Homo sapiens: one gene and its partner. The protein of the gene in region 1 purifies or fractionates together with the protein of each later gene. This does not show direct contact. Each region holds a gene or a part of one and is shown on either strand. Other genes may lie near its edges. The genes, in order: CCNG2 and PPP2R5E.

Region 1 (3,822 bases):
AAACCAATTTGGGTTCCTGCAACAAGGCATTGTTTGGATTGCTGGTAATACACACTTATAACACCAGATACAAAACTAAAGAAGTTAGTGATATGAGAGAACAGGAATTTCCCAAAAAGGACATAGTTCCGCCACCACTGGGCAGTGCTCCAGTTTATTTCTTTTTTGTTTTTCTTTTTACGTATTTTTTTCCCTCCTCCTTCGGAATGCCTTCAGTTTATTTCAACGAATCAATTTTCACTGAAGATGGTTCCAGCTATCACTATCAATAAAAAGTTCAGATAAAAACTAATAAAATCATAACTAAAGCAAAAAGTTATCTGTTACAAACAAAATGCTTCACATGCACATATTTTCACCAGAAAACAGAAGATCTATTTTCTTGGCTTCCCATTTTCACCTAATGTAGCTACATCCTAACCCACTTGTAATCTGGTTTCTACCACTTCCTTCTCACTGCTCTACTGACATTACCTCTGACACACCCAATGACCTTCAATTTTCATTATATTGGATCTCTTATAAAAATTCAATACTCCTGACCACCTCCTTAAAAACCTCCTTCCAGTCTGACAGTGCTTCTACTTGTGGGGATGTACCTTTCTTCACTTGGCTCCTAATGTTGGGGGGAAAGGCCAACGCTGAAAACCCCAGAGCTTCAACTGACCCCTACAAAAAGGATTCCACAGCTTCTTACCGTTTCAACTACTGCTTCTTCATGAGAAATTCCAAACCTCAATCTCTAACTATAGTTTATCTTCTTATTCCAAAACGCCAAACACCTACTAGACACCCACCTGTGTACACAAGCATCTAAAATCATATTGCTCTCATCACAAATTAACTTCTCCCAAATTTCCTGCCAATTATGCTAATATTATATCCACCATTAGGTACAAATCTTGGTCATTCAAGACTCCTTGCCTCATTTCCATGCTTGGCTTCCAAAACCACTGTTTGAGTTGGACAGCCTTACTCCTGCTTGTGACTACCACCTAGACATTGTACCTGTAAGTCTACCCTAAAATGACTTTTATATCTGTCTAGTCCACCAATTTCTTGGCCGTTAAGCCTTCGCTGAAACTTTCACTGTCAAAGATTCTTTTGCTCCAAACAGGCTCCCAGTCATAGTGTTTCTCCTAGTCTGCCCTATTTCTTTGCTTAAAAAAAACCCAAAGTAAGCCGGGCACAGTGGCTCACGCCTGTAATCCCAGCACTTTGGGAGGCCAAGGCAGGTGGGATCACTTGAAGTCAGGAGTTCAAGACCGGCCTGGCCAACATGGCGAAACCCCATCTCTACCAAAAATATAAAAATTAGCCTGGCATGGTGGTGAGCACCTGTAGCCCCAGCTACTCGGGAGGTTGACGCAGGAGAATCACTTGAACCCGAGAGGCTGAGGTTGCGGTGAGCCAAGATCATGCCACTGCACTCTAGCTTGGGCAACAGAGCAAGACTGTCTCAAAAAAAAAAAAAAAAAAAAAAAAAATCCCAAAGTACTCTCTATATTCACTATTACCTGGCACCAAGACACAATAACAAATGACAGAACACACCACTTCATGTTAAGTTCCTCATTTCCCCAACTAGACTGAGAGTTTAAGAAAAAGTATTGTGCTTTTGTTTTATATCTCTTTGTGATGGTAAGACTTACTTTTACTTAGCTGGCCTAAAGGATTTGAAAAGACATTCGGGTTTAAAACATCAACATTGCTGGTGTTAATTGATGCTGCTGCTAATGGGATGACAGTTCAGTCCTACAGGTGTGATGGGATCCCATCCTATCCCATTAGTGTTTGTTCTGAGTCTACTACCTAGTATGCATTTCAGAACAATGCATATGTGGCAATGTAACAGCTGTACTATCATATGGCATGATTACTACAGAAGGGGCACCTATATGCAGAAAGAAGCTGAGCTAAGTGACCAGGTTCCCTTCCGGATTAATACTGTCTGGGTCAAAGCTGCATTTTGAGAACTTTAACACTAGAGATATAAGAAAAAAAACAAGTGTAAAAGTTAAGAGTCCCATAAAGTATTACTTAATGTTTAAGTCACCACAGAAAAAAATAAACATCAGGAAAAAAATTTGCCTTAAAGAATAATGACTGTAATTACCTTGGAATGTTTTTTAACTAGCAAGAGAATTTCCAGTAATTCAACAGATTTCAAAGTTTCCACTTCCAAATTGAGAAGGCACAAGGCTAATACAGATGGCTGTAAGAAAAAAGAAAAAAAAGAAAAATATTTTTTAAAAATTCAAAATACAAACTGTGAGATATATACATAAGCAAGGAATCGACTTACTTTTGCTTTTGAAAAGATGAGTCGGCAGTTGCAAGCTTTCAGCTGAGCTTCTAGTTTATCAAGGCTCAGTATTTCTTTCCTATACAATGCAAAGAACAAAGATTTATTAAACTTCCAAAGATTTAAATGATTTTAAATGATTTTAAATATTTGCCAGGGCCAGACGCGGTGTCTCACGCCTGTAATCCCACCACTTTGGAAGGCAGAAGCAGGTGGATCACCTAAGGTCAGGAGTTCGAGACCAGCCTGACCAACATGGAAAAACCCTGTCTCTACTAAAAATATAAAATTAGCCAGGTGTGGTGGCGCACGCCTGTAATCCCAGCTACTTGGGAGGCTGACGCAGGAGAATCGCTTGAACCCGGGAAGTGGAGGTTGCAGTGAGCCGAGATCACGCCATTGCACTCCAGCCTGGGCAACAAGAGCGAAATTCCTTCTCCAAAAAAAAAAAAAAAAAAAGATTTACCAATAAAGTCAAAGTTGAAAGTTTGAAGAAGGTAAAAATATAAATTTCATTGCCATTCCAATTATTTACTGTTAGCTATAGCAATGTTCAAAGTACAAAATGTATCTTTAATCCCACTGACCTTTCTGAAGTATGACAAAGTATAATAGTATGGTATAAGTGCAAAAAGTTTAAGGCAGTAGTAGCTTCCAATTCATAGTGCAATTTTTCTGAAATTATTTTTTCCATCCGTTTTATGTCAGAAGCAGTACATTTACACTGACTAATCCGGATCACATCATGAGTGGATGGAATATTGCAGTCTTCTTCAACTATTCTAGCAGCCAGCAAAAAAGAACAGACTCCAATGCAAGACAAATGTTTAGGTTTCACCTGAGAAAAAAACAAGAGGCTTCTTTTAACAACTGTCACTTTGACTTAGCAGATACTTAGAATATTGTAATGATGCTCCTATTCTTAAGACAGAACACAATCAAGTTGTTTCTCTTATATGTACTGGCTCTTTACCCACAATTATACACATTTTCACATTTTAGACGTTCTCGACCTCCCCCCCCCCCCAAAAAAAAAGGCAGCAGGGAACAGTGGCTCATGCCTGTAATCCCAGGACTTTGGGAGGCTGAGGTGGGAGGACTGCTTGAGGCCAGGAGTTTGAGAACACTCTGGCCAACATAGCAAGACTATTCTGGCCAACACAGCAAGCCTCCATCTCTATTTAAAAAAAAAAAAAAAAGTTTTTTGAACCTTTAAATTATGTAAATTCAAATGCAGGTACAAAAATTTCCATGCAGGTTCAAAAGCTAGATTCCTAGCACTAAAGTATAATTTGTATTTCAGACTTATGAAATTCATAATATAATCTCTCCCAAAATAAATTAAGCTTTTTAACACCAAAAAAAAATGTACTGGGATATTAAAATATTTTATACTTATCTTTTTACATAAAAATCTTTAAGAGTCATTCCATATTTCAATGTAATTTTGCCCAAGAGAAATATCACGAGTTGTGCAGAGTGGGACATATGTAAAAGCTGCCATGGACAGATGGCGG
Region 2 (3,822 bases), on another chromosome or scaffold:
AAAGACATTATAGCTGTCAAAGGCGGTTTCAGAAAAGGATTTAGGAATTCTATTATTTAAAATCCCCTTCTTCCTTCCTCAAAAAATGTGTTGAATATCTATTATGTGCCAAGCACAGTGCTAGTCTTTGGGCATATCATGATAAACAAGTCAGACAAGGAGCTTATATTCCACTAAAGAAATACAAATACAAAATAACAACAATAAAAGTAATAATATGAATAATAGCTAATACACATATGGCACTTACTGTGATCATCAGGCAATTTTCCAAGCAATCTACATATTAATCCTCCCAATGAGATAGTTTTGTCCCCCTTTTACAGAAGAGGAAACTGGGGCACATAGGGTTAAGTAACGTGCCCACGGTCTCACAGCTAATAGGTGGTAAAGCTAGAATTTGAACCCCAGCAGTTGAGGCCAAAAGTCCGTAGCTCAACCACTGCACTATGCTACCTACTGATATTCCAAATATGCAGTTAAAATAAGCTGACTGCCTGTGGTGACTCATGCCTGTAATCCCAGCACCTGGGGAGGCCAAGGCAGGCGCATCACCTGAGGTCAGGAGTTTAAGACCAGCCTGGCCAACATGGTGAAACCCCGTCTCTAGTAAAAATACAAAAATTAGCCAGGTGTGGTGGCGGGCACCTGTAATCCCAGCTACTCAGAAGGCTGAGGCAGGAGAATCACCTGAACCCAGGAGGCAGAGGTTACAGTGAGCTGCGATCGCGCCATTGCACTCCAGCCTGGGCCATAGAGCAAGATTCGGTCTTTAAAAAAAAAAAAAAAAAAAAAAAAAAAAGGATAAGCCTTCAGCTCTACTAGAACATCTAGGAAAATGAAAAAACCTGAATCAAAACAAACATCAAAATGTCTCAATGATACTGGCAATGGTCCTTTTTAGATCCAGACTCTTGTTATGTAGGTGTGCTCACTCTGTAAATAGTCAACGAAGTGAACATTGATTATTTCTGTTGTATGTTATATGTGAATAACTTTTTTTTTTTTTTTTTGAGATGGAGTATTGCTCTGTTGCCCAGGCTGGAGTGCAGTGGCACGATCTCAGCTCACTGCAACCTCCGCCTCCTGTGTTCAAGCAAGCAATTCTCCTGTCTCAGCCTCCTGAGTAGCTGGGACTAAAGGCACCTACCACCGTGCCCAGCTAATTTTTTGTATTTTTAGCAGAGACAGGGTTTCACCATATTGGTCAGGCTAGTCTCAAACTCCAGAACTCAGGTGATCCACCCACCTCAGCCTCCCAAAGTGCTGGGATTAGAGGTGTGAGCCACCATGCCTGGCTGTGAATAACATGTTTAAGTTCCCAAACATTTGTAATCTAAAGTTAATAACCAAATCCTGATAACATCACATCTACATGCTCAAAATGAGGTCCACGCAACTAGTCCAAAAGAGGTAACAAGCTAAAGTTTCAGCCAAATGCCAGTGAGCACAACAGATTCAACTCAATCTCTATCAAAAGTTCTAGCTGCTTTGTTTTTGTATCATTGACAAGTTGATCCTAAAATTCATATGGAAATGCAAGAGAACCAGAAGAGCCAAAATACTCTTGAGGGAAACAAAACTTGAAAGATTCACACTTCTCTATTTCAAAACTTAGTCCAAAATACCAAGACAGTGTGGTACTGGCATAAAGACAGACATACAGATTAATGGAATAGAATTAAGAGCCCAAAAGTAAGCCCTCACATTTATGGTCAACTGATTTTCAACAAGAATGGTCAATAAACCATGAAAAGTGCTCTATTTTATTGATCATTACAGAAAAGCAAACCCTGGCTCACGCCTGTAATCCTAGCACTTTTGGAGGCCGAGGGGGTAGATCACGAGGTCAGGGGTTTGAGATCAGCCTGGCCAACATGGTGAAATCCTGTCTCCACTAAAAATACAAAAATTAGCCAGGCGTGCTGGCACATGCCTGTAATCCCAGGTATTCGGGAGGCTGAGGCAGAAGAATTGCTTGAACCTGGGAGGTGGAGTTTGCAGTGAGCCGAGATCGCGCTGCTGCACTACAGCCTAGGCAACAGAGGAAGACTCCATCTCAGAAAAAAAGAAAAGAAAAGAAAACCCAACCAACAAAGAGATACTCATTGGATGGCTATAATGAAAAAGAGGGATAATAAAAAGTGTTGGCGAGGATATGGAGAAACTGGAACCCTCATACATTGTTGGTAAGAATGTAAAATGGTGCAGCTATTTCAGAAAACAGTTTGGCAGTTCCTTAAATCTCCCACAGAGTTACTATATGACTAAGCGATTCCACTTTCATGTATATATCCAGCAGAACCGAAAACACATGTCCACACAAAAACTTGTACACAGATGTTCATGGGAGCAATATTCATAATAGCTAAAAACTGAAACAACCCAAATATCCGTCAACTGATAAACAAAATGGGATGCCATGGAATATTATTCAGCCATAAAAAGGAACAAAGTAACTGATACATGTTACAACATCAATGAATCTTTCAAACATCATGCTAAGTAAGTAAAAGAAACCAGACACAGAAGGCCATACAATGTATGACTCCATTTATGTGAAATAAGCAGAATAGGCAAATCCATAGTGACAGAAAGTAGAATGGGGAGTGGCTACTAATAGGTCTGGATTTCTTTCTTTTTTTTTTTTTTTTTTTTTTTTTTTTTTTTGAGACAGAGTCTTGCTCTGTCACTAGGCTGGAGTGCAGTGGCGCTATCTCGGCTTACTGAAACCTCCGCCTTCCGGGTTCAAGCGATTCTCCTGCTTCAGCCTCCTGTGGGTCTGGATTTCTTTGAGGGATGATAAAAACATCCTGCAATGATACTGTGGTGATGGTTGCATGACTCTGTAAACATACTAAAAACCACTAAATTGGAAACTTTAAAATGGTGAATTTTATGGTGTATGAATTACAACACAATAAATCTGCTACCTTTACAAAAAGTCAGTGTGCAAGTTCCTCTGGCTGAAGAACAAACTTGGAAATTGGTTTGAATGTTACTGAGTTGTTTTTTTTAACATTCATCATCATTGCAATAAAGCAAAATTCAGTTCTAGTGTCTTTACAGCAAAACATTTCAAGAGCACATAACACACAAATTAGACTACCATCGTCATCAAAAAGGCTATCCAGATATATGTAAGTTTGACCTCAGGTGATTTAGACATGAGGTTGACACTGACAGCAGAATAAAAACCTCATGGTCAATAATCGAATGTGCTTTTGTTCGGTGTTTTAATTTGAATAAAAGACAAGAGTTATGGACCAAAAAAAGGCCCCTCAAACATGGCAGGAAACGCAAACTAAAGGATGGTCTTCAAAAATAGGTAGAGACAGGACACAATTTTTAGCTACATAATGCCATCCACCATCCATCTATCATTCATTCATCTGTTCATTTTAAAAATGAGTATTTCAAGTAAATATTTATGGTGTGCTTATTAAAAGCCAGCCAGTGGGCGAGCTGTCAGGGATACAATGATAAGCAAGACAGATACAGTCTTTGCTTTCTCAGAGCCTATTCTAATGGGGAATACAAACAAGTAAATAAACAGCATGTTAAGTAGTTCAGGATGTTGTATAAATACACAGCAGACACATCTACTGTATTTGGAAGAAGTGGAGTGATCAGCAAAGGCTTCTAAAGGAAGAGACATCCAGGCTGACCGATGAAGAAATGAGGAGTTAGAAGTGGGATATGAGTGCTCCTCACAGGTTCAATAGTACATGCTTTTCCTAGCAGCCTATCCAAACAGAAGATGTTGTTAACTACAGCTCTCTGCCCATTCAGCAATACAATAAATACATACGTACTGAGTTC

What was found.
Region 2: the proteins of CCNG2 (region 1) and PPP2R5E purify together in Homo sapiens (affinity purification with mass spectrometry, with the first as the bait; one large-scale study listed by BioGRID). This does not show direct contact.

What each region holds. Positions count from the first base shown.
Region 1 is NC_000004.12:77,160,042-77,163,863, reverse strand, and holds part of CCNG2 (cyclin-G2), read right to left. Parts: intron 3,144-3,822; coding exon 2,893-3,143; intron 2,385-2,892; coding exon 2,306-2,384; intron 2,216-2,305; coding exon 2,117-2,215; intron 1-2,116. UniProt on the Homo sapiens protein: May play a role in growth regulation and in negative regulation of cell cycle progression.
Region 2 is NC_000014.9:63,396,729-63,400,550, forward strand, and holds part of PPP2R5E (serine/threonine-protein phosphatase 2A 56 kDa regulatory subunit epsilon isoform), read right to left. Parts: intron 1-3,822. UniProt on the Homo sapiens protein: The B regulatory subunit might modulate substrate selectivity and catalytic activity, and might also direct the localization of the catalytic enzyme to a particular subcellular compartment.